Homo sapiens: one gene and its partners. The protein of the gene in region 6 purifies or fractionates together with the protein of the main gene of each other region. This does not show direct contact. Each region holds a gene or a part of one and is shown on either strand. Other genes may lie near its edges.

Region 1 (3,796 bases), on a different chromosome or scaffold from region 6:
CCTTGACTAATTAGCACACTTACTTGTGGTTGTGATGGGAGGGAGTTCTTCTGGCTGCTTGACATCTTTCTTTGGAGCAGAGAGTTGCTCATCTAAATTCTTCAGGCGATCTTTATCCTTTAGGAGGTTTCCAGGTTTTAGCTCATTGATGTCTAATGCAAGGTTCTTGCAGAGAACCTCGATTTCAAACTTCAAGTTTAACTGCACAGTTCCAGAGTTGGATTAGAATTTTTAAAAGAAAACTTTAGTTTTACTCATAATATACTCTACTTTCAGTTATTATAGTACTTCCCCCGAAATACCCTGCCTTCACTGTAAGTTTTAATAATGTGAAGGCAAAGAATGTTCCAGAGGACAAGGAAGCAGTAAATTACCTTTAAGTCATGCTCCTGATGTAGCTCAGCTAATACATTCATAATTGCCATTGTCCAAGGGTTTGGTGGCCTAAAAACCTAAAGAAAAGCTATTATGTTAAGCTGGCCCAAAATGTGCCCTTTAATTTGGATTATTTAAAACAATTCAATACAACATAAGGGGGTAGGGGGGAGTCAAACAAATAAAAAACAAAAAACAAGGATTAAAAAATAACCAAAAACAGTTAAACATAGTTAAACACTTATACCTCTGTAGCCATAACAAAACCCCTAGCCTTCTCACCTATATCACATTTCAAAAACAAAACAAAACAAAAAACCAAAAACCAAAGCCAACCATTATAATCTTTCTTATTTCACCCAGCCTCTCAAATTGGAAATCCAAGTGCCATAGAGGAAAACAGACTTAACTAGCTTTACCTCACAAGAACTAAGAATATAATCTCTTGACCTCATGCTAAAACAAAGCAATGCTTAGAAATTAGTCATAAATAAAATATTAAAATCTACTCACCACACTACGAATGCTAGATTCTAAGACTTTGGCAACAAAGGGCACTACATAGAGCAATTCTTGTTGTCCTTTAACATAAGCCTCTAGCAGCAATGATTTCACATCCAAGTCCTAGAATAAGAAAAATACTTTCAAAAGCGGGGAATATACCCCCCAAAATGGTATAACAAAACCAAAGAAAAGTATTTTGCCAAGCTTATCCCCAAAACAGGAATCAACATAATGTCTAGTCCTTGCCTTACAAAAAGGGGTTAACAACTCAAAACGTGGGCCAAAATCTTACAAAACCCCAATAATCATTAAATAGCTCCAAACAGCCAATACTTGTAATCATAATGTGCTGAAGATTCTCAATTTTTACACATTTAGATGAAACTCACAGTGTGTAAGATGGGTTTGTTTTTAGCTAATGTGATCATTCCTAGCCAATGTCCCAAGTTCTTCAGCAAAGAACGATCTGAGAAATTGGCTGCAGCTTTATCAGAGGTCAGGAGCACCTGAAATAGTGTAAGATTAAGAAAGATATGAGAATAAGCTTATGAAAGAAAACTCAACTAAGTATTTGAGAATTCCATTATCCTATCCTAAAGACAAGTCATCATTTCTAAGAACAGGCCCCAAAGTAGAATTACTCTGTATATCATTCTCAATATCATTTTGCTGTGTTTATGATTCAACAGTGCTATTTTTACCTTGAAGAAGTCTTTACATTTTATTTTTTCAAAATAGGTACAAACACATTGCACAAAATTCAAAAAGAACACAAAGTTATGTGCCAGCTATCCTCCCCTAGAAAAGTATTTTCAACTCTGAAAACCTTAGCTAGGTTTAAAGCAGAGACCTAACTACAAAGCTATTTTGAAGTGCTAAATTAATTTAAATGAGGATGATAGCCATGCTTAAGTCCTTAAAGGCAGCAAGCATACAAAGGAATATAATCAAATTAGCCTCCTATTGCAATCTTCAGTATACCCAGGTCATTAACAAATCTCTGCAGCCAACCAAGATAACTTTCTGAGATATAGTATAATACTGTTTATATACTTCTTTTCAAATTTCTAAAAAACCCAAACCATTTAACTGATTCTCCGGTTACTGTTTTTCTAAGGGGGGGCAGAACTAACATAGGAGAGTGTTTTGGCTGCAGGTATGCACACATGTATATACCCATCTACTCTGTGGTACCTCTTGACTTAGGGCTATATTTAAACTTCTGTTTAAAAAACATGGTCTTGAAACTTTGCTACAGAGTATGTGGAAACTTTTATGTATCCCAACCACCCTTGCTATCAGATAATAAAAACGAAATAGAGCCATGTTCCTTAACTCTATACAGCAACAGCAGAATGGCACAAGTCAGCTGTGCAACAGAGAGCCAGGAATTCTTTTGCACTACAGCGTAACCAAGAATGGGGAATATTCCCATCCACAGGTTTAAATATAGTGCTGGTTCCTAAGCCAATGACCCAAGTTATTGAGCAAAGAATGACCACAGCTGTATGCTGGTTCTAGAAGTTTTTCCTCCTAAGAAATAAATGATGGTTTAGAAATTAAAATACTTGAATTTTGTTGAATAAGCCTCAGCTCAGTAGAATTTGACCTTAAACTGCACAGACTCCTAGACAACAGCTATTCCACAAACAGATTTAGAGTCTAAAGATATCTTGCACTTGAATACTACAAGATACAAACGAAAACATTCAGGACAGCATTGTTTATAATAGTTTAAGTGATTAACAACACAAATGCCCAGCAGCAATACAAATACATACAATGGTTTTCTACAAGACTATATTTTTCTGTTTTTTAAAAAAGAGGACTGGCCGGGCACAGTGGCTCAGGCCTGTAATCCCAGAACTCTGGGAGGCCGAGGAGGGTGGATCACCTAAGGTCAGGAGTTCGGGACCAGCCTGGCCAATATGATTAAACCCCGTCTCTACTAAAAATATAAAAATTAGCTGGGCATGGCGGTACAACTATAATCCCAGCTACTCGGGAGGCTGAAGTAAGAGAACTGCTTGAACCTGGGAGGTGGAGGCTGCAGTGAGCCGAGATCGTGCCACTGCACTCCAGCCTAAGCAACAGAGTGAGACCACATCTCAAAAAAATTGAAAAAAAAAAAAAAAGGGGGCTACAGCAAAGAGCATTATCATTATCATGAATAATATCCAGGGGAGAAAAAAAAGTAAGTGAAAAAAAAAGAAAAGGATGTACAGAGGGCGACACCATACAGAATATGCTAACCAATACTATGCTGCTTATGTATAACAGTGGTAAAGTTCTAAAATCATGCATGGCATGACAAAAACAATTCATAATAGTGGTTACTTTCAAAGAAAAGGCACAGGGTATGCCTATAAATTTAAGTTCTGCATAAAATTTAGTTCCATATAAGAAACAAAATCTACAGCAATTTCCAGAGGTACCTAATATTGACAATATATATGGAAAAATAGCAAAAATCCTACCTATATAATCAAATATTTCCAAATTCAAAGCAATAATTAAAGGAAATATAAGAACCAACTCTTACTTTAATGTTTCTGTAGGTCTCATTCAGAACCATCTTGTTAAATTCAGGATTCTTCAGCGTGTCAAGGAAGTTTGAATACAGGCTATGAAAGTTTGGCTCAATACTGACTCTCTTCATAACCAGATACTGTGAAACCCAAGGCATAAATTCTTCTTTCACCGTTTCCTTTAGCTCTTCAACCTAGCCGGTCAATACGACATGGGAAGCACAGAATTACACTATGATAAAATAACACTTGGTTTCTATGAACCATACTATACAGCACATGGCTCCTTGCAAAACTAACTAGATGCTAAAGAATGACTTTCCTTCACACCAGATAGATGCTATGAAGAAAAGTATGCTCAATTCCATAGTCAATCACAACTCAACCCA
Region 2 (3,796 bases), on a different chromosome or scaffold from region 6:
GAAAAATTTATAGATGTTGATGTAGCAACATATTCTTTGGTAAGTCTCATTATTTAATAGCTTTTTTGATGCATGCAAAATACTGTAAAAATCATTTAAAAAATCATTTACCTGCTCGAATTTTGACAGCCTGTGGGGTCAAGCGCCTATTAATATTATTAATGAGTACTTCCCGTTCATCTTCATTCAAATCTAAACTATCCAAAATAGATGGGTCTCTGGTCAAAAACATAAATAAATAACAAAAGGTCAAGGTTATATTACTGATAAATGTGAAACCAAACACTATGGAACAATGCATATAATAGTTAAGCATATAATAGTTAATGCATATAATAGTTAAGGCTTTAGTGTCACAATTAGAATTCAAATCTTAGCTTTGCACTTACACCCCAACTGATTATTAGTGAAATCAAAATTTTAGTGATCTGACTAAAACAAGCAATTTAATGCCTAACACATCTGATATTCTACTATAATTGATTACTTCCATGCAATTAGCTGTCCCTGCCTCAAGGAGTTTATAATCTATCTTGAATAGAAAAAAAAAACATGGAAAAACTTTTAAATGTAACAGTACATCTGTGGGCATCAGGACAGAAAGGTATTACTTCCAGTTAATGAGGTCAGGAAGGGCTTCATGCAAAAAGTAGCATTTCATCTGACCCTCCTAAGTGCCACAGGACAGGGACCAGGGTCTTATTAACTGGCATGTTTGTTGAATGAGTGAGCAAATGAAAATATGAAATAAAGACTAAAAGAGGAGTAGCACTGTAAAAAGTAAAGGTAGAACTATTGTAAAAAAGTTATGATACATAAGGCTGGGCACCAGTGACTCATGCCTGTAATCCCAGCACTTTGGGAGGCTGAGGCAGGGGGATCACTGGAGACCAGGAGTTCATAGACCAGTCTAGGCAACATAGCAAGACCTCCATCTCTATTAAAAAGAAAAAAAGACACTTTGGGAGGCCGAGGCGGGCGGATCACGAGGTCAGGAGATCGAGACCATCCCGGCTAAAACGGTGAAACCTCGTCTCTACTAAAAATACAAAAAATTAGCCGGGCGTAGTGGCGGGCGCCTGTAGTCCCAGCTATTTGGGAGGCTGAGGCAGGAGAATGGTGTGAACCCGGGAGGCGGAGCTTGCAGTGAGCCGAGATCCCGCCACTGCACTCCAGCCTGGGCGACAGAGCGAGACTCCGTCTCAAAAAAAAAAAAAAAAAAGAAAAAGAAAAAAAGAAAGTTATGTCATGTAAAAAAGGAATAGCATGAGCAAGCATCAGGCTTAATAAGCAAGGGGTCTTATTGGGAATAAAAGGCAAGAGAATTTGGGTGGAGGGAACTTTTACTCAGCTAACATAAAGTAACGAGAAGACAACCAACATAAATGTATAAGAAACAAGATGATAAACAGAAAATGGGCAAATGAGGTGAACAGATGTTTCACAGAAGAAATACAAATGGTTAAGAAACATGAAAAACTGTTGACCTCTCCAACAATCAGGAGTATGCAAATCAAAAGATACTACTGTGAATTCATTAGACTAGAAAAAGGAGAAAAAATCAGATATATACCAAATTGTGGCAAGGATTTGGTGAAACCAAGTCAGTTTAAAGATATATAATCAATCCTATGACCCAACAATTCCACTCCTAGGCATATATATTAGAAACTCTCAAACAACTACATATAGAGACACATACACTATTCATCACAGCCCTGTTTGACAAATGGCACAGAAGGGAAAATTACCTAAACAACTCTTAATAGAGGAACAGATAAAGCATATTCTCACAATGAAATACTATATAGAGATTAATATGGATCAAGTATACATCTATCATTGTGGGGGAATCCTGCTTAATAATAGGCTTATATGTAAAAATGCAAGCTACAAAAAGATACAATAGGTTACATTTTAAATAAAAAATGATAATAGACACATATGTAGTAAAACAATAAAAACAAATGATATTGATACATAATTTCAGAATAGTGGTTATCACTGATAAGTGAGGAAAATAGGTCTGGAAAGGTAAAACATTGTTTCCAACTATGTCAGAAATTTTATGTAATTAAAAGAAAAATGCAAAGAACTAGCATTAGTTAAATCTGGACAGTCCCTACATGAATGAAGCAAGAAAAGAGTGCTAAGGAAAAGGGAATAACACACGCCAAGGTTTAGTGGTAACAAGGGGTTGCTGGAACTAGAAGTTAAAGAGGTAACTAAAGAAGCCAGATGATGACAGTTGAGACAAGTTAAGAAATGTACTGAGGACTGCAGGACAGAAATATAAAGTTGTGTTTAATGGCTAATAGTGCAAACTCTGGATGGAGCCAGAATGCACGCGTTTGAATACTGCCTGGCTCTATGATTTGTTAGCTGTGTGACCTTGAACAAATTATTTAATCTCAGCTTCAGTTTCTTCAACTGTAAGAAAAGGATAATAATAGCATTTATACCACAGGTTGTTGTTAGAATTATATAAATGTTAGTTATCATTATTACTATTCCCACCTTTTCTACCACGTGATATACCAAAAAAAAAAAAAAAAAAAAAAAGTCACATGAGAATAAACTTGAAGGGATTTGGAACCCCAGATGAGTTGGCTTTCTGGGGGACTCTTAATGGTCTTGGGTCCTACTCATTCTCTTTTTTCCCCCCTCTAACTCTTAACATTTAGGAAGGAGTGGGAGGTAAAGAGACAGCAAGTATAGAGAACTGAAAGAGTCTGGCTTTTTTTTTTTTTTTAAGAGACAAGGTCTCACTCTGTCATCCAGACTAGAGTGCAGTGGTGCAATCACAAATCACAGCTCACAGAAACCTCAAACCACTGGACTCAAGTGATCCTCCTGCCTCAGCCTCCCAAGTTGCTGGGACTACTACAGGCAAATGCTACCACACCTGGCTACTTTTAATTTTTTTTTTTTTTAGAGATGGCAGTCTTGCTATGCTGCCCAGGATGGTCTCCAACTCCTGGCCTCAAGCAATCCTCCCACCTCAGCCTTACATAGTGCTGGGATTACAGGCATGAGCTACCACACATAGCCAAGTGTGGCTGTTAAAAGCAGAGGACGCAGTGTTTGCTCCAAGAGAAAGTAAAGGAAAAGTTGAGAAGTGGGTTTTATAGTATAAATGGAAGAAACTAGAGATATTTTTATGCTGATGGAGTAAAAGCAATAAAGGGAAAGGTGACCCAAGAGAAAAAGTAACTAATAGAGATCTCTGAGCAGCAGCTGGGCATAGGTGGCAAGACTAGTTTGAGAGCAATTAGGACACAAATTCCAGTGACAGCAGCATAGGAAGAAATGACAGGTGGGACAGAGATATGTAAGTTTGTTGAGACAGTGGAAAAGTAGTTCTTGTGCAATGGTTTCTATTTTCTTTATAAAATAAAATAGGTAGTGAGCATACCAGCCAAGAGGCAGGGAGCAGGGATAGAGTGGTTTTCTGAGGAAGAACGTGGAAAAGCTCTAAAATAGCCACTACTGAAGAACTGACCAGGAGCAGAGAGAATGTGGAACAGCTGAGGCTGGAGACCATGAATATGCAGTGGACCAACCTGCAAGACTGATTTTTCCTAGTAGCACCCAGCAGTCTACAAGTACAGAGAAGGCAGGAACATTGATCCAAGGCTGGATGGATGGAAGGAAAAACAAGGCAAAAGCTCACAATAATGGCAACAAAGTCGTTAAAATGATGTATCATGGTGTGCCTATGTTGGATAAGAGAGAAAAGGCAGGAAATGGCGAAAAGACAGGGAGAAAAAAGGTTTGGAATCAGATCCTAACATAC
Region 3 (3,796 bases), on a different chromosome or scaffold from region 6:
TGCCACTTTTGCTTCAACTTCCAGAGTTTCAAATGGAAGATCTTTATAAATTAAAGCATGAGCATCTTTTGTGAAGGAACGTAAGTTCTCCTTAAAAATGAAAGTAATAACCTTTAGTAACAATTCACTGAAAAGCATTTCTCCATAAGCCAGTTGAAACAAAACTCTATGCTTAGTACTGCAAATCCAACTAAAATAAAAGATAAAATCAAATTTGTTAGAACAGAAAGTTACTAATTTGCAACAACTGAAGTTTTGGACCATAAACTATAAAACTTCTTATTTACCTGTAATTAAGGTGTCAGCCTTCATTAATACTAATTATTAAAGAGAAAACTATACAGAAATTTTATCCAAATTATATAATTTCATCCAAATTATACAACCTTAAAATGTTTATTAAAACTATGATGCAGCAAGTAAAAATGCCAATAAATAAATAGCAAGACATAAAAATGTGTTTACAGTATGAATAAATCTAAGTTTATTAAATATATGGGGAAAAATTATTGTTTTCTTAATTAAGAAAGTTTCACTAGAAATGTAGCATCATCACCCACCCTGTGCAAAGTATAGCATGTCCAATATTAAAAGTTTCTGCTTAATAAAAATGTCAATTTTACACAATTAAAATGATGAAGAATACACATTAACAATGTGTTTAAGATTTTTAATAAAAATTCTAATTGAGCTTTCATACTGTAAATCATTACTAATAACACAGAAAAAACCAAGCACTATTACACAAGTAATTTTTATAATGAAATTATTTCCATAAAAATCCTATTAGACTTTTTTGCATGAAATGACTTCTCTATAAAGAATAATTTACTGTATAAAAAAATCAACATTCATGGTTTAATACAACTATTCCTTCAATGTAACTCTACCCTACTTTCTTTAAGCTGTCTACTCAACCCAACTCCATGGAGTCTGCAATCAGCTCACATATTTCTTTTGTAAGGTTTTATCTTTTAAAAAAGAAAAATGCAAAAGCCAAGCACAGTGGCATACACCTGCAGTCCCAGCTACTAGAAAGGCTGAGGCAGGAAGATTGCTTGGGCCCAGAAGTTCAAGGCCAGCCTAGGCAACATAGTGAGACCCCCATCTCTTTAAAAAAAAAAAAAAAGAGAGAGAAAGAAAGAAAAAAGCAGTTATGTTTCACAGATAATGAAAATTAAATCTTGACCTCAGTTTTTACCTAACTTGCCCCAGTAAAAAAAATCTTAAATTTGGAGACATACTTGAAAAGGAAGAAGCTACACTGACAGGAGCCCAGAGGTCATGAAGAAACAGTTCCAATCCCTTCCCTCCCCTCTTTCCATCCTCTTCTCTCTCTCTTCCCTCTCCCTTTTTCTCATTCTTTCTTGATTCCCTCTTCTCTCCCTCTCAATATTATGTAATATGCGCAGGATTATACAAAAAGTAATTTCCAAGGCCAAATTTAAAGCTGGATCTGCCCTTACTCCAAAATCCTTGCTTTTAAGAACCACTACAGTATTTTACTAAATCTAAGATGTATTACTAAGGGGAAAAAAAAAAAAAAAAAACACTACAAATTCTAATTGCAAGATACCATCTAATATAAGGCTTATATATTTTCAGAGATATTAAATATAAAAAGAATGTACACAGTGGAAATGATAAAATGATGTGCTACACTGCTTCCCCTTTTCAGATCTCCAGACTCCCAATACATAGGACATATAGTTTTGTTTAATTAAGAATTAGGTATTTGCCTATTCTCCCCAATCAGAACTACATCTCCAGGCTTGATCTTTGATAACCATCAGCACCCCTTACCTACTGAGCACCTGATCTAGACTGTCCTTGTTAGGCTCTGTTGCTACCCAAGTCCCAGACCAACAAGGACCATCCTCATTACAAAGGCAAACCATTCACAAAGAGTTTAGTTTGTTAATATTTCATTTGTTGATGCTTGAGTATTAGCTTTGTCAAAGTCTGATTCTTTAATTCACCCAGCTCTCAATGTGACCCTTGTATATACAGGGACCTCACTGTATGCAACAAGTTAAAATGGTTTAGGGGAGTGGTTTTCAAATTGTGCTCCAGCGACCCAAACAAGTATGGCTCCAGGCCCCCTACTACCACATGGGTCAAGATAGTTAAGTTTTTATATTTTATATCCTGGGCCTCTTGAAAACCACTACCTTAAAACCACTTAGAAGGAACATCAAGAAAAGGTCAAGCAGAACATAAAGTTTCAAGACAACTGACCATGTTGATGTAAATACTCTCATTCACATCCCTCTGTCTTAAATAGGCTGAAAAAGCAACAACACCAATAGATAGATAGATAGACAGACAGACAGATACATAGATACATAGATAGATACATAGATTCTTTTAAATGTTCTCAACATGCAGTACCATTCAACAATACTAACATAGGAATCATTCTAACAAAGAAAGGCAGACACTCTAAAATTAATACTCCAGAAGAATACACTTACTTTTGTTGGCATCCACTCATCAAGTTTGCTATCCAAAACTACGTCATAACAGAAGGCACCAGAAATTACTGTAAATCCAACCAAAATAAAAAGCAAAGTCAAATCTGCCCCAACAGAAAGTTACTAATTTGCAACAACTGAATATTTAGACCATAAAAAGGATTAGCACTCTCTCCCAACTCTACAAATTATAAAATGGTTGCCATTCTTCCAGCTGCTTGCCAGAGCTCTATCAAATTTCCCTTAGCCAAAAGATTGTCAACCCCAAATCACAAATATTTTTTAAACATTCAAGTTTTCTTCACAAATGCTATTGCCATACAGATTTCATACAGTTACCAGATGTAAAAATTCTGGGAAGCCAAGGCAGGTGGATCACCTGAGGTCAAGAATTTGAGACCAGCCTGGCCAACATAGTAAAACCCCATCTCTACCAGAAATATAAAAATTAGCCGGGCTTGGTGGCAGGCAACTGTAATCCCAGCTACTTGGGAGTCTGAGGCAGAAGAATCGCTTGAATCTGGGAGGTGCAGGTTGCAGTGAGCCAAGATCGCGCCACTGCACTCCAGCCTTGGCAACACAGCGAGACTCCGTCTTAAAAAAAAAAAAAAAAAAAAAATTCCAAAAGAACAAGATATTTAGTAAGTAGATAAATAACTTAATGGATACAAAATGTTACATTTCTTTTATATCCCCTAAATATCTTCTTTTTGGGGTTTTGTTCTTAGAATCATTTCTTGAGCTTCTTTCAAATATTTTAGGTATATCTACTTCTTTAAAAAAAAAAAAAAATTTGACACGTGATCCTACCATACTTACTATTCCAAAATCCTAGTTTTAGCAAAATTACAGTCCACACCCTGTCATTTCACCAAAGTGCTGTCACTTTCCAAAGTAATGGTCCTGTCTGGTGAAATATTACCACCTAAGCACAGCTCTTTACAGTAGTCTACTTATACTCAGATTTCCTCCTCCTCTATACATCCAATTTGGAAATATATGCTTAAAGTAAAAAATAAACGCTAAGGGCCGGGCACGGTGGCTCACGCCTGTAATCCCAGCACTTTGGGAGGCCGAGGCAGGCAGATCACGAGGTCAGGAGATCGAGACCATCCTAGCTAACATGGTGAAACCCCGTCTCTACTAAAAATACAGAAAAATTAGCCAGGCGTGGTGGCGCGCGCCTGTAGACCCAGCTAATCGGGAGGGTGAGGCGGGAGAATGGTGTGAACCCCAGAGGCGGAGCTTGCAGTGAGCCAAGATCACGCCACTGCACTCCAGCCTGGGTGACAGAGTGAAACTCCGTCTCAAATAAATAAATA
Region 4 (3,796 bases), on a different chromosome or scaffold from region 6:
CTAACTAACTCAATCTCACAGAGTATTTAAAAAGCTAATAGATTGGAATGAAGGTTTACCAGTGTATTCCATTAACAAAAGAATGGCTGAACATCAAAAAAACTAAAGTAATCTGCATTTAATGGCAGAAAACCATGAGATCGTCTTCATCTTAATAGATGCAGAACGATTGTTTATGTGTTCAACATCTATTTGTGTGTGGTTTTTTTTTCAGCCTCAGAAAAATAGTAATAGATAGAATCGGTAAAGTTTTTTTGTTTGTTTTGAGACGGAGTCTCACTCTGTTGCCCAGCCTGGAATGCAGTGGTGCGATCTCAGCTCACTGCATCCTCCATCTCCTGGAGTCAAGAGATTCTCTTGCCTCAGCCTCCCAAGTAGCTGGGACCACAAGCGCACGCCACCAGGCCCAGCTAATTTTTGTATTTTTAATAGAGATGGGGTTTCACCATGTTGGCCAGGCTGGTCTCGAACTCCTGACCTCATGTGATCCACCCGCCTCAGTCTCCCAAAGTGCTGGGATTACAGGGGTGAGACACCACGCCTGGCCATAAGTTATTGGCTTGATAAATGCCATTAATCTACAGCAAAAACCTTACTAAAAGAAGAAAATGTAGACATTCACCGCAAAATCAGGAACAAGGCAAGGATGCCCACTGTTACAATGCCAGCACAATTCTAGATATCCAGATCACACAATTTACAAAAGAAATGTGAGATATAAACACTGGAAGGAAAAAGACACACTCTTATTTAAAAAGATGATATCGTCATCTACAAAAAACCAATGAAACCAACAGAAACTAATAAAACTACTCAGAGGAGTAACAAGTTATAAGAGCAACCTACAAAAATCAGATGTTATCCTCATTAACAATAACCAAATAGAAACCAATATGGACTATAAGATGTTACAATAGCAACTAAAACCATTAAGTAGCTAATAATTAGCCTCCCACAAAGACACATCAGACCCACAAAGGAAAAATTTTAGTTCTATCAAAGAAACTAAAAAGAGGTGTGATCAAATGGGGGAGATTTAGCATCACCATGGACTGGACAACTTAATGTTATAAATATGCTGATTTTTCATGGAACAATTTAAATTCAGTACAATTCGAATCAAAATTAAAGTATGATTTTTTCCAGAAATTCAACAAAATAATTCTGAAGTTTTAGCTGAGTATATTTGAAAAGGAATAATAAAGTGAGAGGGGAGAGGGAGCTCTCTCTCATTCTCTCTCTCTTCCTCTCACTGGCTCTCTCTCTTTCTCTCCACCAGATAGTAAGACCCATTGGTAAGCCACAGTAACAAAAGCAGAAAAAATGCAAATACACCAATGAAATAAAATAGCTCAGAAACTGGTCCACTTGGATATATACAAACTTGGTGTAGAATTGGCTTCACATATGGCAGAAAAAATATACTTTTTTTATTGTAAGGTAAATTGCCTCACTGTAAAGGGGATAAAATGCTAAAGCCAAATCTATATCTGACTTTCTAGGTAGAGCACATATAAATAGATGAGGAAGGGGATCTTCAAATCTTATTTTAGGAAATAATTATGATTTGGGTGTGAAGAAGGGCATCTTTGAAATATCTCAAAACTACAAACCAACAAGGTGAGGCTTGTGGATTTGACCTTATCAATATCAAGGATTTTTGATCAACAGAGACTACCGTTGTCAGATTTTTGACTGAGAAGAGGTTTTACTAAAGTTTAAAATCAGCAATAGTTTGATACCTAGATAGAAGGAACTTCTGTCCTTGAATCAAAATCATGCAGAAACAAGGTGTGAAACTCAATTTAAAAAGTAGTCAAATGTCACAAAATAAGAAAGGGAAGCCCAAACGGCTAGCAAATATGTTGAAATGATCAAACTCACCAGCTGTCAGAGAAATGAAAATTAAAAATAAAACGAACTATCTATTGCATTACAACCATCATTCGGACAAAAAGTATGAAAGTCAAAAATACTTCTAACTGAAGTTGTGGGGAAATTAGAACACTTGCAGAGTGTCATTCCAGACAGCAGCTTGGTGATCCTGGGTGCATGTGGGGTCTGTCTCTGGTGGCCCTGGGTGCATGTGGAGGTCTGTTTCTGGTGGCCTCTGATGAATGCGGGGTCTGTCTCTGATGGTCCTAGGTGAATGTGGGTGTTGTCTCTTTCTCTGGTGGTCCTGGGTGGATGTGGGGTGTGTCTCTGATGGTCCTGAGTGAATGTGGGTGTCTGTCACTTTCTCTAGTGGCCCTGGGTGGAATATAGTAGCCCTGTCTCTATTGGTCTTGCATGAAATGTAGTGAGCTTATGTCCACTAGTCCTGGGTGCAGTGTGTTTAGCCTCTACATACTCATCAACTGCTTTATTATAAGTCCAGGAGGGACGCTGTCCAGCACGTAAGTAAGGAACACAGGTGAAGGTATCAGTCGTGTGGCTGCATGTGGTAGAGGAAAAGAGAGCACAACCTCTGTCCATCACTATGGTGACAGAGAAGTAAAAGGTGGATGTATTCCACGGAACACTCCTCAACTGTTAGGACCCCTGAGCTAGACATGTATACAACAATACCGATAAACCTCTAAAACAAAATGCTGAGCAGAAAACCCAAGTAGCAGGATTTCTAATGCTCACTAAAACCTCTATGAACCCAGAAACCGGAAACACAAACCAGCACAATCTGTTCTGCATGAGCACATGTGTCTTGGAGGACTGGAGGACGCATTGCCAAGCACCTAGGCATGGGTGTCTATGAGGGGAAGAGAAAGGCAGTAGGCACAGGAGGTTTGAAGAAAACTGATCATTTAAAATATGAAAGATCATAAAATCAGAGCTGTGCCCTGTAGGAATCTTGAAAATGGTCTGCCATGAACTTAGGAATCTAATTAGCTCAAAGGTCAGAGTCATGATCAAGTAAGATAAAAGGGGTCAGTACCCACGGCTCATTACCCTGCTCTTACCAAACACTGTGCTCTCTCTGATAAAAGCCACGTCTCCAGCCCCGTCTCTCAGACACCTGTGAAAAGAGAAACCATCAGGGGTAAGCACAGGCAGCCCTCCCCAGCCCCTCCCTGTGGAACAGTAGCCCTGGCACTCAGCATCTATGGGTTTCTACTCCCTGCAGGGCAGGGCTCTGAAGCTTTGGGGCATCCCAGCTGGGAAGGTAGGGGCCCCCTCCAGGTAGATACTGAAGAATGACTCAGGTGCTAGCCAGAGGCCCCCATCTTCTGCTTTGAGGGCTAAGAGGACAAAACTTTTTTCTATATAAAGGAGAGTTTTGAAGCCTCTACCCAAGAGGGTAAAGCCTTAGCATCACTGTTCATGTGGCTGTTTTCCTCAGGACTGAGTGTGCAGGTGTGCCCTGGCCAGTGGGGAAGTGTGGAGGCCTCCCTCTGCAAAAATACGCTAGTGCCAGCAGACAGAATGGGAAAAGGGGGAGCTCAGCCTCCGCGTGGGGGCAGAGAGGATGGGGGCGAATCAGGCATTGCTCACTGTCCTTCAGCCACGGGGAGAGGCCCAGGTGGGCAGAAGGACATCAGCCTGGACACTGCAGCGGTCCTGCCCAACCAGGAGCCAGGACTGGACATCTCATGACAAGATGCCTTCAGTCCTGCTGTGGTTAGGCAGGCGGCAGAAATTAGTATGAGGAACCCAGGACAACAGGGCAGCCAAGTTGGATTCAGGGCTCTCTGAGGTAACAGGAGGGCCCACAGCCACAGTGACTGCCCGTGGGGCTGGTGAGAAGTTGGGGGCACAGTTGGGCCCGGAAGGCTGGAGGGGAACACACACTGGGCAGGCC
Region 5 (3,796 bases), on a different chromosome or scaffold from region 6:
CTGAATGTCCCTCACTATCACTGGCCTGACTACCACTGGACCCCCAGTGTCCACTGTCTCTGACTGCAGATGAAGCTTGTCTGCGCGGAATGCCTGAGTGTCTGGAGCTGTCTGCTGACTGCTGGTGGCGGGATCCGTGTCTTTCTCCTGGACTTGATCTTGCCTGTTCATGGGATGACGCAGCCTGTCCACCAGAGGAAGTCTCTGCGTGAGGAGTTCCTGATTGTCTGGAGCTGTCTGCAGAGTGCCCGTGACCGGCTCTGTCTTCGTGATGGGACCTGGGGTGTCTGGAGCCATGTCTTGACTGCTCCTGAGCAGATCCACGATGGTTTCTGGAAGCAGACCCAGACCACCTCTCAGAGTCTTCTGAATGTCCCTCACTGTCACTGTCCTGGCTAACACTGGATCCCTGGCGCCTGCTTGTCCTGGACCCCTCTGATTGTCCCTGGCCTGCCTGTGAGTGTCTAGAGATGTCGGCATGAGAGGAAGCTTCATGGTGACGTGACCCTGAGTGCCTGGAGCCGTCTCTTGATTGTTCCTCATTACGTGTTGTTCTGCTTGCACTTCTGGATCCTGACTGCCCACGGGAGGCATCAGACCTTCCCTGGGATGTGGTGTGGCTGTGATGGGACCCTGAGTGTCCAGACCTATCTACCGATTGCTCGTGGTGGGACCCCTGCCTTCCTCTTCTGCTTGACCCCGGGTGTCCACGAATGGTGTCCTGACCATCTTGGGATGCTGAGTGCCTGGAGTTGTCTCGTGCCTGCTCATGGTGGGATCCTTGTCTTACTCCAGTGCTGGGCCCTGTCCATCCATGGGAGGACTCAGACTGTTTATGAGTGCTCACCTGGTAGAGGAAAGACCCTGAACGTCGAGACCTTTCCCCTGACCGGTCACGTGCGGACTCTTGGTGGCTCTGCTGATGGTGACCAGCCTGTCCATGGCCTGACACTGACTGTGTGTCTGAGTCTTCTGAATGTCCCTCACTGTCAGTGGCCTGACTACCACTGGACCCTCGGTGTCCACTGTCTCTGACTGCAGATGAAGCTTGTCCGTGCCCAGTGCCTGAGTGTCTGGAGCTGTCTGCTGACTGGAGCTGGTGGCGGGATCCATGTCTTTCTCCTGCACTTGATCTTGCCTGTTCATGGGATGACGCAGCCTGTCCACTAGAGGAATTCTGTGTGTGACGAGTGCCTGATTTTCTGGAGCTGTCTGCAGAGTGCCCATGACCAGCTCTGTCTTCGTGATGGGACCTGGGGTGTCTGGAGCCATCTCTTGACTGCTCCTGAGCAGATCCATGATGGTTTCTGGAAGCAGACCCAGACCACCTCTCAGAGTCTTCTGAGTGTCCCTGACTGTCACTGTCCTGGCTAACACTGGATCCCTGGTTCCTACTTGTCCTGGGCCCCGATGATTGTCCCTGGCCCACCTGTGAGTGTCTAGAGCTGTCAGCCTGAGAGGAAGCTTCATGATGACGTGACCCTGAGTGCCTGGTGCCGTCTCCTGATTGTTCCTCATTTCGTGTTTGTCTGCTTGCACTTCTGGATCCTGACTGCCCATGGGAGGCATCAGACCTTCCCTGGGATGTGGTGTGGCTGTGATGGGAACCTGAGTGTCCAGACCTATTTACCGATTGCTCGTGGTGGGATCCCTGCCTTCCTCCTCTGCTTGACCCCGGGTGTCCACGAATGGTGTCCTGACCCTCTTGGGACGCTGAATGCCTGGAGCTGTCTCGTGCCTGCTCGTGGTGCGATCCTTGTCTTCCTCCAGTGCTGGTCCCGGTCCGTCCATGGGCAGAGTCAGGCTGTTCATGAGTGCTCACCTGGTAGAGGGAAGACCCTGAACGTCCAGACCGTTCCCCTGACCGGCCACGTGTGGACTCTTGGTGGCTCTGCTGTCTCAGCCCAGCCTTTCCGTGGCCTGACACTGATTGTGTGTCTGAGTTTTCTGAATGTCCCTCACTGTCACTGGCCTGACTACCGCTAGACCCCCGGTGTCCACGATCGCTGACTGCAGATGAAGCTTGCCCGCGCCCAGTGGCTGAGTGTCTGGAGCTGTCTGCTGACTGCTGGTGGCCGGATCCATGTCTTTCTCCTGGACTTGATCTTGCCTGTTCATGGGATGATGCAGTCTGTCCACGAGAGGAAGTCTCTGCGTGACGAGTGCCTGATTGTCTGGAGCTGTCTGCAGAGTGCCCATGACTGGCTCTGTCTTCATCATGGGACCTGGGGTGTCTGGAGCCATCTCTTGACTGCTCCCACGCAGATCCATGATGGTTTCTGGAAGCCGACCCAGAGTGCCTCTCAGAGTCTTCTGAGTGTCCCTCACTGTCCCTGTCCTGGCTAACTCTGGATCCCCTACGCTTTCTTGTCCTGGACTCCTGCAATGGTACCTGGCTTGTATTTTCATGTCTTGACCTGTTCACTTGAGATGATGATTTGCCATCAGATGACCTTGATCTTTCATATATTTTGTTTTCTTCTAATAGACTATCAGTGGTGTCATAGGCTTCATCCTGGATTGTGTAATATGTGGCAATATGGCCTGATTGTATCCATTTTTGAGTCATTCTTCCTGTATTTTCATAATCATATACTCCTTCTTCATTGTCTTCTTTCTCTTCAAGTCTTTCACTTAGCCTCTTCCTATTGTCTCCTAATCTAGTATTTTCAGTCTTGTTTTTCTCTTTTTTACTTGAGTTATGATGGTTTTTTCCATATTCTTCTTCTCTATGAGTAGGTGAATATCCTTTTCTTTCTTTTTTTTCAGAACTAGATTCATGCCTTTTCCCCCCTGTTTCTCTTGGGCTCTTGGATCTTCCCTTATTCCCTTTTCTATTGTTTCTTCTTTCCAGACTTGAGGGTCTTTTTCTGTTTTCTTTGTTTTCTTCCTGTTTATTATCTTCATGTTTATCATGATGACTGTGCTTTCTGTGCTTGTGTCCTGATATCGGTAAATTCTCTTTTCTGGTAGACTCATAATATGCTTGAGCCAACTTGAATACCATCAGAAGAAACTCAGTGAAGTCAATTTTCTTGTTGTGGTCTATATCCAAGTGATCCATGAAGACATCAACCATATCTGGGTCATCTGGATTCTGTACAGAGGGAAGTCACAGAGGGAGACTGCATCAGACAGAATCACATTATCAGCCAATTAATTCAAAGTTAATTTAAGGAACCTGATCTTTGAGTATTAAAAAGTGGGACAAAATCTTTTTTTTTTTTAAGACTTTTTTGTCTCATCCTCATTCAGGTGTTATATGTGAACAAAGATGTAGACTAGTAAGGTATCAAGATTTGATGGGGTAAGTGACTCTTTTTCTTATTTTAAAAGTCAGAAGTGTATATAATTCATTACTTAGTTGTCTTTAACAAAAATCCCCTTAGTAATGTTGATGTTTGGGAGAATATTATAAATACCAAAATACTAAGAACTAATTTACATTAATTTTTAAATATTTATATTTTTTTCTCTGAGGGTGTCTTTATGTTTATAATATACATCCAGGTATAGGGGAAGAAAATAAAATCTATCTCTTTTGAGACAAGATTAACTCTTTTCCTATTTTAAGAGAAATAGTTCACAAAGAGCTCAAAATAACCCTTGCTTAGATTATTGATGAGAAAAACAAATGCTCTATCTTTGGTCTTGTCAGAGACTCTTACCTTCAGGATTTGCCGAAATTCCTTTTCCAGAAGTTCCTTCAGCTCTTTTTTACTCAATGTGTCAGTGTTTTTATCTTTTTTTGAATATTGCTTGAAAAGATTAATTATGGCAAAGATGTTTTCCAGGA
Region 6 (3,796 bases):
ACAACTAAACAAATACACAGCTGGCAACAAGCTGGGCAGAATGGGTAAACTGAGAAGAAAAAATACAGATTCAAAAATAATTAGAAATTGAAGAGGTAAGAGATCTTGCAACTTTTTGAATCCTAGAGATGAAATACACAAGTCAGAGGTACAGAATATGCAATTTAGGAGAAGCATTTGTGAAAAAACAGGTATACTTAGAAATTTTAGTTAACACAGTACTTAATCCCAGCTCTGGAACTCACCTATATAAAAATGTGTGTGTGGCGGGGCTGGGGGCTAGGTTATTCTCTTTAACTTAGAGAATGCACACAGCGTCCCTCGCATATGCATGGCACTTGGAAGCTACTCAATAAATATTAACTTCCTTTCCTTCCCTCACAATATGAGTCAACAATTGATGCATCTTCCAAGGGGTCATGGGGAGGACTGTCATCGTTGGTGGCACGAGTGCACATATGGTTTAGAATGTCGGAGGTGATTCGCCCTGCTCTATATTCCCTGCCTGCTGTCTGCCTCTAGCTCTGGCAACCTCATTCTAAGTGGAAAGCAAGATGAGAGGGGACTTAAAGACACATTCATAATAGGAACTGAGAGTTATCAGTCATTGGTGAATGGTGTTATATGCAGAGCCCTTAAGGGAATTGGAGAAGTTTCTCTAGAGAAAAGGGCAGATAATATAAGGGCTATTTTCAAATATCTAAAAGGCTGCCTTTCTAGAAAAGTGATTAGCCTTCATTAAAAGCTAGAAAACCAGATTTTACCCAGTATTAAGGAAGAACTTTCTAATATTCAGAACTGTTCCAAAGATAAAAGTGGACTCCCCAGGACCCCAGAGGTGGTTTACAAGTCATGTGGGCAATTATTCATTCCTTCATTCACTGAACAAATATCTACTGAGAATCTACCATGTGGCAGGCACTGGTCGGGGTGCTGAGGCTGTACTGATAAACACACAAACATTCCTGACCTCACTGAGCTTGCTGCATTCCAGAGGAAGAGACAAATAAACAATAAACATAAGAAGTAATTAACAGTATGTTAGAATGTGATTAGTGCTATTGGGGGACGAGGAGGCCTTGCTTATCTAGGTTGGTGGGGCAGTTGGGGACTGGAAGGAAATAGATACAGTGCTGTATAAGACCGATTTCCATCCTAAAATGCCATAATGCAAACACATTTGGGAGTGTATACCCAGTGGGACAGCTAAAATACTACAGCAACTGAAGAGCTCCTGGAGCTGAACAAAAGATGGAAGAAAAAGTTTTATACTATGCCTGACACTTTAAAAACCTATTCTGGCCAGGTGCGGTGGCTCAGGCCTGTAATCCAAGCACTTTGGGAGGCCAAGGAGGGTGGATCACCTGAGGTCAGGAGTTCAAGACCAGCCGGACCAACATGGAGAAACCCCATCTCTACTAAAAATACAAAATTAGCTGGGCATGGTGGCACATGCCTGTAATCCGAGCTACTCAGGAGGCTGAGGCAGGAGGATTGCTTGAACCTGGGAGGTGGAGGTTGTGGTGAGCTGAGATCACACCATTGCACTCCAGCCTGGGCAACAAGAGCAAAACTCTGTCTCAAAATAATAATAATAATAATAATAAATAAAAACCCATTCTCTCCATGTTCCTTAGCATTTAAGAACACTGTAAAATGAAAGTACTGTTAAAAATTCTTAAGATTTAGGATCAGTACTCTGGAGTACCCGATTCTTTTAAATTCTTTCTTTGAATTCTTCTGCATTGAAAGAATTTTAGGCCGGGCTTGGTGGCTCACGCCTGTAATCCCAGCACTTTGGGAGGCCGAGATGGGTGGATCATCTGAGGTCAGGAGTTCGAGACCAGCCTGGCCAACATGGTCTCCACTAAAAATACAAAAATTAGCTGGGTGTGGTGGTGGGTGCCTATAATCCCAGCCACTCAGGAAGCTGAGGCAAGAGAACTGCTTGAACCTGGGAGGTGGAGGTTGCAGTGAGCCAAGATCGTGCCATTGCACTCCAGCCTGGGCAAATAGAGTGAAACTCCGTCTCAAGAAATAAAAAAGAAAAGCCCAGGTGCAGTGGCTCATGCCTGTAATCCCAGAACTTTGGGAGGCCAAGGCGGGTGTATCACTTGCAGTCAGGAACTCAAGACCAGCCTGGACAACATGGTGAAACCCCATCTCTACTAAAAATACAAAAAAATATCCAGGCGTGGTGGTGGGCGTCTGTAATCCCAGCTACTTGGGAGGCTGAGGCAGGAGAATCGCTTGAACCCAGGAGTCAGAGATTGCAGTGAGCTAAGGTCGTGCCACTGCACTCCAGCCTAGGCAACAAAAGCGAACCTCCGTCTCAAAAAAAGAAAAAGAAAAAAGACTGAAGACTGTAGCATGTAAACTTGGTTACTTTTATCCTGAAAGTTTTTCTTTTTATAAACCATATTAGAATTTTAAGTGATCTCATGTCAAGCTCCAACCAGAGGACTCAGGGTCTTTAACAAAGAAAAATCTTTTATATCTTTTCCAACATTATTAGAAATGCCTCGAAAAAAATCTTAATTGCACGAGTCAAACTATTTCATTGCAAGTGTCATGACTGGCTACTCACAGTTGGCATGTTTTTGACGATGCTCGGGAATAGCGTTTGTGGCGGTTTCTCCTGACTCTGTTGCTTTGGAGGTTGCTGGACGCTCAGGTTCTGTGGCGGCTGAATGGGCTGCAGTGGCTGCTGGCTAGTTTTTGGCTGGGGTTGTCCAACAACCTGATCGATTATATCCGGCAGAGGCTTAGGCTCTACCTCAACTAAAGATGGCTTTGATTCTAATGGTTGCAGCTGCTTATTTAAAGACTGTTTTGATTCCAGATGATTTGACGAAGGGCCTAATACCTGACCAACTTGAAAATATGGGTGTTTCAATGCCTATAAAAACACAGAGAAAACAACAAATGGAAAACAGTTCCACCTAAATGTATTGCACATAAACTATGGTTGGCCCTGTGCGAGGCATTTATCATTAGCCCACATGAGCTTCAAAGATTTAGAAAGCAGCCATCATTCCCTATACAGTGCCTCTTTTAAAAGATAACCAGAAAAAAATGATTTGAGAAATAAATTGCATTAAAAAATTAAAAGTGGCTGGGCATGGTGGCTCACGCCTATAATCCTAGCACTTTGGGAGGATGAGGTGGGAGGATCACTTGCGGTCAGGAGTTCAAGACCAGCCCGACCAACATGGTGAAACCCAGTCTCTACTAAAAATACAAAAATTAGCCAGGCGTGTTGGTGGATGCCTGTAACCCCAGTTATACGGGAGGGTGAGGCATGAGAATCGCTTGAACCTGGGAGGAGGAGATTGTAGTGAGCCAAGATTGTGCCACTGCACTTCAACCTAGGCAACACAGCGAGACTCCACCTCAAAAAAAAAAAAAAAAAAGTACTAGTAGGAAAAAATAGAAAGCTCACTTGTTATTATAACATCTAAGCAAAACAGCTGTTCTATTTATTTAAAGATTTGTTAGTGAAAATAAAATGTAATTTATAGACATTGGCTAAATTAATGTGATTACTTCAAGCTAAAATACTACACACCAATAATGGTTTAGAGTACACTCAAAGACATTAAAAAGTGAATTAAGAAAATCTTCCATATAGATTATTTGAAATGATTAACCAGAGCTGTATGTAAAATTCCGGGTTACTCTCAGCCTGAGTACAACAATATACCTACTAGTAATAAAAAAAAAATCTAAAGAGGGGACAACAAACACATACTGTTGAAGTTTATTTCATCGGTATACCAGCAAAGAGAAGACATTT

What was found.
Region 1: the proteins of MAK (region 6) and CNOT1 purify together in Homo sapiens (affinity purification with mass spectrometry; one large-scale study listed by BioGRID and IntAct). This does not show direct contact.
Region 2: the proteins of MAK (region 6) and EIF2S1 purify together in Homo sapiens (affinity purification with mass spectrometry; one large-scale study listed by BioGRID and IntAct). This does not show direct contact.
Region 3: the proteins of MAK (region 6) and MRPL39 purify together in Homo sapiens (affinity purification with mass spectrometry; one large-scale study listed by BioGRID and IntAct). This does not show direct contact.
Region 4: the proteins of MAK (region 6) and LTF purify together in Homo sapiens (affinity purification with mass spectrometry; one large-scale study listed by BioGRID and IntAct). This does not show direct contact.
Region 5: the proteins of MAK (region 6) and FLG purify together in Homo sapiens (affinity purification with mass spectrometry, with the first as the bait; one large-scale study listed by BioGRID). This does not show direct contact.

Annotation. Positions count from the first base shown.
Region 1 is NC_000016.10:58,546,298-58,550,093, forward strand, and holds part of CNOT1 (CCR4-NOT transcription complex subunit 1), read right to left. Parts: intron 3,602-3,796; coding exon 3,422-3,601; intron 2,337-3,421; exon of another isoform or gene 2,202-2,336; intron 1,386-2,201; coding exon 1,269-1,385; intron 1,000-1,268; coding exon 889-999; intron 453-888; coding exon 375-452; intron 202-374; coding exon 24-201; intron 1-23.
Region 2 is NC_000014.9:67,377,081-67,380,876, reverse strand, and holds part of EIF2S1 (eukaryotic translation initiation factor 2 subunit 1), read right to left. Parts: intron 219-3,796; coding exon 112-218; intron 1-111. UniProt on the Homo sapiens protein: Member of the eIF2 complex that functions in the early steps of protein synthesis by forming a ternary complex with GTP and initiator tRNA. This complex binds to a 40S ribosomal subunit, followed by mRNA binding to form a 43S pre-initiation complex (43S PIC).
Region 3 is NC_000021.9:25,597,325-25,601,120, forward strand, and holds part of MRPL39 (large ribosomal subunit protein mL39), read right to left. Parts: intron 2,543-3,796; coding exon 2,475-2,542; intron 91-2,474; coding exon 1-90.
Region 4 is NC_000003.12:46,451,348-46,455,143, forward strand, and holds part of LTF (lactotransferrin isoform 1 preproprotein), read right to left. Parts: intron 3,014-3,796; coding exon 2,958-3,013; intron 1-2,957. UniProt on the Homo sapiens protein: Transferrins are iron binding transport proteins which can bind two Fe(3+) ions in association with the binding of an anion, usually bicarbonate. Lactoferricin binds to the bacterial surface and is crucial for the bactericidal functions.
Region 5 is NC_000001.11:152,311,651-152,315,446, forward strand, and holds part of FLG (filaggrin), read right to left. Parts: coding exon 3,669-3,796; intron 3,308-3,668; exon of another isoform or gene 3,098-3,307; coding exon 1-3,097.
Region 6 is NC_000006.12:10,793,411-10,797,206, forward strand, and holds part of MAK (serine/threonine-protein kinase MAK), read right to left. Parts: intron 2,900-3,796; coding exon 2,588-2,899; intron 1-2,587. UniProt on the Homo sapiens protein: Essential for the regulation of ciliary length and required for the long-term survival of photoreceptors. Phosphorylates FZR1 in a cell cycle-dependent manner. Plays a role in the transcriptional coactivation of AR.